2 linked regions of the Homo sapiens genome follow. The protein of the gene in region 2 interacts with the protein of the main gene of each other region in a pairwise test. Each region holds a gene or a part of one and is shown on either strand. Other genes may lie near its edges.

What was found. Proteins that work in one complex are often made in the same cells at the same time.
Region 1: the proteins of TRIM69 (region 2) and IYD interact in binary tests that used the Homo sapiens proteins (3 or more experiments, as listed by UniProt).

The regions. Positions count from the first base shown.
Region 1 is NC_000006.12:150,375,512-150,379,011, reverse strand, and holds part of IYD (iodotyrosine deiodinase 1), read right to left. Parts: intron 1-3,500. UniProt on the Homo sapiens protein: Catalyzes the dehalogenation of halotyrosines such as 3-bromo-L-tyrosine, 3-chloro-L-tyrosine, 3-iodo-L-tyrosine and 3,5-diiodo-L-tyrosine.
Region 2 is NC_000015.10:44,764,028-44,767,527, reverse strand, and holds part of TRIM69 (E3 ubiquitin-protein ligase TRIM69), read right to left. Parts: intron 298-3,500; coding exon 1-297.

The DNA of each region.
Region 1 (3,500 bases), on a different chromosome or scaffold from region 2:
TGTGTGAGCTTTGAAGGTGAGATCCCATTTGGAGCCCTCTGGAAGCGATGAGCATGACCAGGAGGAATGAAAGGAAGAGTGGCACATTTTCTTAATCCAGTCTATCATTGTTGGACATTTGGGTTGGTTCCAAGTCTTTGCTATTGTGAATAGTGCCACAATAAACATACGTGTGCATGTGTCTTTATAGCAGCATGATTTATAGTCCTTTGGGTATATACCCAGTAATGGGATGGCTGGGTCAAATGGTATTTCTAGTCCTAGATCCCTGAGGAATCGCCACACTGACTTCCACAATGGTTGAACTAGTTTACAGTCCCACCAGCAGTGTAAAAGTGTTCATATTTCTCCACATCCTCTCCAGCACCTGTTGTTTCCTGACTTTTTGATGATTGCCATCCTAACTGGTGTGAGATGGTATCTCATTGTGGTTTTGATTTGCATTTCTCTGATGGCCAGTGATGGTGAGCACATATACACCATGCAGCCATAAAAAATGATGAGTTCATGTCCTTTGTAGGGACATGGATGAAATTGGAAATCATTATTCTCAGTAAACTATTGCAAGGACAAAAAACCAAACACCGCATGTTCTCACTTATAGGTGGGAATTGAACAGTGAGAACACATGGACACAGGAAGGGGAACATCACACTCTGGGGACTGTTGTGGGGTGGGGGGAGCGGGGAGGGATCGCATTAGGAGATATACCTAATGCTAAATGACGAGTTAATGGGTGCAGCGCACCAGCATGGCACATGTATACATATGTAACTAACCTGCACATTGTGCACATGTACCCTAAAACTTAAAGTATAATAATAATAAAATAAAATAAAATAAAAAGAAAGGAAGAGTGGAAGAAGGTCAAAGACCCGCCCTGAGGGACTTGGCCATTCTCCAGGTGGAATTCAGGTAGAGAATTCACCTTCTGAGGAACACCAATAACAACGTTAGCAGGCGCTACTTTTGGCTTATAGCTCTTAGTGAGGAAACTTCCTTTTATATTTCTCTAGCAGGGACAGTTTGGGCCTATTTAGAAGAAAGTATGTGTGATGGGGGAGTGGTAATAAACATCTATCAACTTTCTAACAATCAGTCCTGGCCCAGCGAAATGCCAATGTCATGAACGTCACAGTGACAACTCTGAACTTTATCAAGGTGTCAATAAAGACTTTCAACACCAATGATACTTTTGACACCATTTAAGATGAAGTCTGGCAGCCTCTGTAGTTAATAAGTGGTATATAAGCAAATGCATTAAATGCTTCCTTAACTCTTTGAAAGGTAAGTTACTAAGTCTTAAGACCCATTCAGCACTTGTAAAAACTGAAAGCAGTCTAAATGCATGACTTGGCAGTTTCCACAGCTTCTAGAGTCCAAGGCAGACTCTCCTAATTAGCAGAAGGAAGCAAACTGTTACCTCATTATCAGTGCTAACCATTATCCCTGACTAGGGAATGGTCAAACAAATGATCCTCATCACCTCCTGATGGGATTGTCCTGAGTGCACTCTCGGAGCAGTGCACAGCCGGGCTGCCATTCCTGGAGCCTTTCACAGGGCAGAAGGTCTATACTATGGCTGGGGAATGAGACTAGCAGGGCTGGGCTAGGAGCACAGTGAGCTTCCACTTGTCCCCTTCTCTTGAACTCCTGACTGCTCCCGAGGAATGTGGCCCTCAGCCAGAGGCAAGAGAGCAGACTGTGTAACCCCTTTGTTTTCCTGCCTTCACTCTAGAGCAGTGGAGCCACTAGGGATTATTCAAGCTCGAAGGTCCACACAGTGCAAAGCAAATGTATACTATTATGGTCTGCTTTTTGAATGAAATCTTGTGCTGCCACACTTGGAACTTGCTATTGATACCAACAGTAACTTGCCTTGTATCTTTGCACTGGGGGTCTGCAAACAATACCCTAAAATACTGACACTTGGCACTTGACCTGGTGAACTGAAGAAGCACCTCCAGGTCTCCCTCTGACCTGCCTGGTCTCTGGTCTCTCTGATCCTTTTTCCTGAAGCACTGAGAGAGACTCTTTCTGGAATTTCGCTATCTGACTAGGGGCATTTCTTTCCAAAAGAAATGTAATTAGGATGTGCCCAGTGGCTCATGCCTGTAATCTCAGCACTTTGGGAGGCTGAGGTAGGAGGATTGCTTGAGCCCAGGAGTTCGAGACCAGCCTGGGCAACATAGAGAGACCCTGTCTTTACAAAAAGTCTAAAAATTAGGCATGGTGGTGTGTGCCTGTAGTCCTAGCTACTCAAGAGGCTGAGGTGGGAGGATAGCTTGAGTCCAGGAGTTTGAGGTTTCAGTGAGCTATGATCATGCCACTGCACTCCAGCCTGGGCAACAAAGCAATACCCCATCTATTAAGAAAAGAAAAGAAGAAGATGAAGAAATGTAATTGTCTTAAGATCCCTTGCCTGGGAATCCAGGCAGACAGAGACAACCTGGGGAACTTTACCTGCATAATGAGAAGACTTTTGTTCACAGTGAAGTTCCACCCCTCGCCTTCCCACTGCCTCTCATAAGCTCAAGGAACTTCATCCCAAGGCATTGTTCTTTGGACCCATTCATTTTCCCTGAAAGTCATTTACTCCTACACACTCCCACCATCCCCTCATCCCCTATGAAGAAGGATATATAAGCATCTGGACCCCACTGGGTTATTGGCGATTCCCCAGTGCTTATACATGTTAAATAAATCTGTATGCCTTTCCTTCTATTAATCTGTCTCTTGTCAGTTCATTTTCAGTGAACCTTCAGAGGGCAGAGGAGAAATTTCTTTTCATATTTCGCTAGCAGGAGCAGTTTTGGCCCAAACTGTATACTTTTAGTTAGAAGGAAGTAGATGTGAAGGGGGAGTGGTAATACACCTTATCAGCTTTCTAGCAATCAGTCCCTTGGTCCCTACAATCGCTTTAATGCCAAGGAATCCGTTAATTGTGCCATAATTAGGTTTAGCCAGCCAAGTAATTCTAGGTCACTTCTATCTTTTCACATTTAGCATGGAAGTGTTTTTCTGGTTACATCTCCAAATACATTGCTTTAGTGTTTTTACAGTTCTACTACACAGTCTTTGCAAATGGACCACTATTTTCTAATCAAGAAACCAAGGACAATTTGTGTCACATCATCCTTGTTCCCTTCTTGCAATTTTGGAAGCCTTGAGGAGTGATGTTACTAAGGAGGAGGGTGATGCAGATTTTGAAGGTGAGGATGGGAGCCACTTCAGGGCTCAGCATCTGCCCCGACAATGCCTCTTTCCCAGCTGCTTCACCATTGCTGTGCTCCCTACCTGGGCCTCTCAGTCATCCCACTTCCTGTGAGGCCATCCTCATAGGGCTAACAAGAATTATGGACAGAAGTAGTTATAATCAAGCATTCATCAGGCTGCTTTGACCCACTTCCTTGTTCTGAAAGTCTCATAGCACTAGTAGATACTGACCGTTTGCATCCCCGCTGTTCCTATGCATAGAATTTCTGACATGAGAGTCACAA
Region 2 (3,500 bases):
TCCTTAGTCTTAAAAGCCAGAATCCTTGCTCAGGAGTTAGAGGACAGCTGCCCTTCCGAATGATGGATTCTCTGACAACTCCAACTGTCCATTTTGTCTTCTTTGCTACTTCTACTTCCCAGTACCACTTTCCAGAGGTGAAGCCTCTTGAGCCCAGTACAGCCACACTTGAGTCAAACCTCTCAGGATCATCAGGCATTATCTTCTTAATGTCACCATGCCAGACGCTGGTTTGGCTTTTGGAGAGCACCAGATTTGGGTGAGCTGTTTTAGGGTCCAGAGTTAGTGGAGACAGGCCTAGTAAGAAAATAAAAGAAAGCAGAGCATGGGAGAAAGGGGGGTAAACACAAATTCCCACAGTAAAAGATAGTATTTCATATTCAATAGTACTTTATCTCCCCATACACATAGACTCTTAGACAGGCAAGCAATTACTTATATGCTTTTTTTTTTTTTTTTTTTTTTTTTTTTTTTGAGGCAGACAAGGTTGCCCAGGGCTGGAGTGCAGTGGTGCGATCTCGGCTCACTGCAACCTCCGCTTCCTGGGTTCAAGCAATTCTCGTGCCTCAGCCCCCCAAATAGCTGGGATTACAGGTGTGTGCCACCACACCTGGCTAATCTTTGTAATTTTTTAGTAGAGACAGGGTTTCGCCATGTTGGCCAGACTGGCCTTGAACTCCTGGCCCCAAGCAACCCACCTGCCTAGGCCTCTCAAAGTGCTGAGATTACAGGCATGAGCCACCGCACCTGGCCACTTACATGCTTTTTATTGTTTGGGTATCCATGTTACTATATTCTAGACATTTTTATATTTAGGGTAAAAATCAGGGTTTACTCAGAAGTAATTTATGCTCTACTAAAGGAAACAATACAAATAATATAAACCTATACTAATAAATATAAGAAAATACAAATGCCAAAGGGGTAAAAATTAGGTAAGGATGTTCTAGGAAAGCTTTCTGAGGAAGGTAAGTATTCAGTTGTATATACATGAGATGTATTTAGGATGTTTTGAATAAACGGAAAGAAAGAAATGGATTAAAAACAGTCCCCTGTGTGGAAGAGAACACAAGAGCTTGCCTGTTAGACACAGGCAAGACTGAACTAACTGGTACAGAGTTTAGAGGACAATAGTGAGAGGTTTATTTTGGTTTAACAGATAATGAGATTTTTGAGATCTAGAGTGGTTTATGTCATTGCTACTCATAATGTGGTCCACATACCATGTGGTTAACAGTCTCGGACAAAGATAGTATAGAAATTAACAGTAAACTTTTAAAAACTTTCATAGCAAATTGACAGTAATTTTATGTCAGTTGAATCTAATAATTACAAAATTGGGCTTGTACTTTGTAATCTTTGCTTTTTTTAATTTTACTTTTTCAAGTAATTTATATTGTATTCTACAAAAGTATCAGTCCATGACAGATTGAGATTTTTTTGATTGGCCCTTCATCACAGATAATTTTACAAGCATTGGTTTAGACAATTCAAAGGGCAGCAGTATAAAAAAGAATATCTAAACTAAATGAAGAGAGGTTGAAAGCTGACCAGCAAGAGGATGACACAAATTCCAGATGTGAGATCATTGGACCTTGACATGAAATTTGATAAAGGAGACCTAATAGCTATGTGTGTGCACACCATGGACACAGATACATGTATGCATGCATTTGTTGTTATTGGATTTATTTATCCTTGGAAGCAGAATCAATCTAGTTTCTCTCTCTCTGTTTTTTTTTTGTTTGTTTGTTTGTTTTGTTTTGTTTTTTTTGAGATAGATTCTTGCTCTGTCCCCCAGGCTGGAGTGCAGTGGCACAACCTCGGCTCACTGCAACCTCCGCCTCCTGGGTTCAAGCAATTCTCCTGCTTCAGCCTCCTGAGTAGCTAGGATTACAGGCATGCACCACCACGCTCAGCTGATATTTTTTGTAATTTTAGTAGAGACAGGATTTCACCATGTTGGCCAGGCTAGTCATGAACTCTAGTCTAACTCTATCTTCTCAGAAAAGCCTGAGTCTTTTCCATTATCCCAGGGACTTCTCTTTCCAACAAGAGGCTTTGAAGAATTAAGAATCTTGAATTTTTCCATATAGGCTAAATCCCTATCCCCTTACATATCCCCATTCACTTTGGGTTGTTAATCTTTCTGATGTGAGGACTGGGTTTTCTTTGGAGGTACCATAAAGACTTTTTAGCAACGTTTTGGAATCCCACTCTGCTCTCTTTGCTAAGCCTCTGACACATCTCTAGCTAGTTCAGCCTGCACTGGCTCTGAAGATTCCCATGAGTCAGCTTTTTGTCCTCTCTTTCCTTCTCATGCCACGTTCATATAACGAAAAGTTCTGTCAGCTCCACCTTCAAAATATATCTTGTGCCCAAACACTTCTGACTACTTCCAGAAATATCACTGGCCTGGAACTACTGCAATAGCTTTTTACTCTTCTGTTTCCTCTCTTGCCCATCTGCACCCTATTCTACACATATCATGAATGAGATCAAGCCATTTCCCTGCTCAGCATACTCTTATGTTTACCATCACATCTGAGATAAAATCCAGAGTCCTTATAGAGGAAAAAAGAGCCACATGATTTACCTACCTCTCTACTTCATCTCCTACCACACTTTCCCTCATTTACTTTGATTCATCCACCCTTGTCTTTTGGCAGTTCCTTGAACATAATGAAGATCATTCCTACTTCAGGGTCCTTATAATTTCTTCCCTTGTCCTAGAATGCTTTTTCCCCATATGGTTCACTCCACATTATTTGGGCATTTGTTCATGCAAATATTTTAAATTGAAAAATTCCCTAAGCTAGAGTAGGCAAACTACAACCAACAGGTCAAATCTGACCCACTGCCTACTTTGTAAGTAAAGTTTTATTGGAGCACATTTATGACCATTCATTTATATGTTGTCTGTAGCTTCTTTTTCACTACAAGAGCAGAGTTAAGTAGCAGCAACAAAGACCATACACCTGCAAGGCCTAAAATATTTACTCTTCAAACCTTTACAGAAAAGTGCCAGCTCCTGCTCTAAAGCAACAGCCTAATTTATAAGGCTGGCAGAAAAGGAGAATATATGGATCTACAAAATAAGCAAAGACTTAGAAATAAAAAGTATGGAATATATTTTACAAAGGTCTGACCACAGTTACCATAGAAAAACAATTTCCCACTCTGTATAGAGGGAGAGTATATGGATAAATAATACATTATTAATAAATAGTCATATATTAAATAAATCTCATTTGGTTTTCTTGATGTAAAATTATACCAAAAATTTAAAAATCAGTTTGCATTTTAAAAGATTGCTAGAAGTGAAGTTTGGCTTTACAGAGCAAAGTATACAGGAAGAAAAACTCTGTCATACCAAGGCAGCTACAATTTGCTAAGCAGAGTAACACAGAGGAGGGAACTTCACAGAAACTTACAAACATCTACAAAGGGATTCTCTCAAGGCTGTGGCTGAGTACTAATCTGCACATGCATGCAGTGAA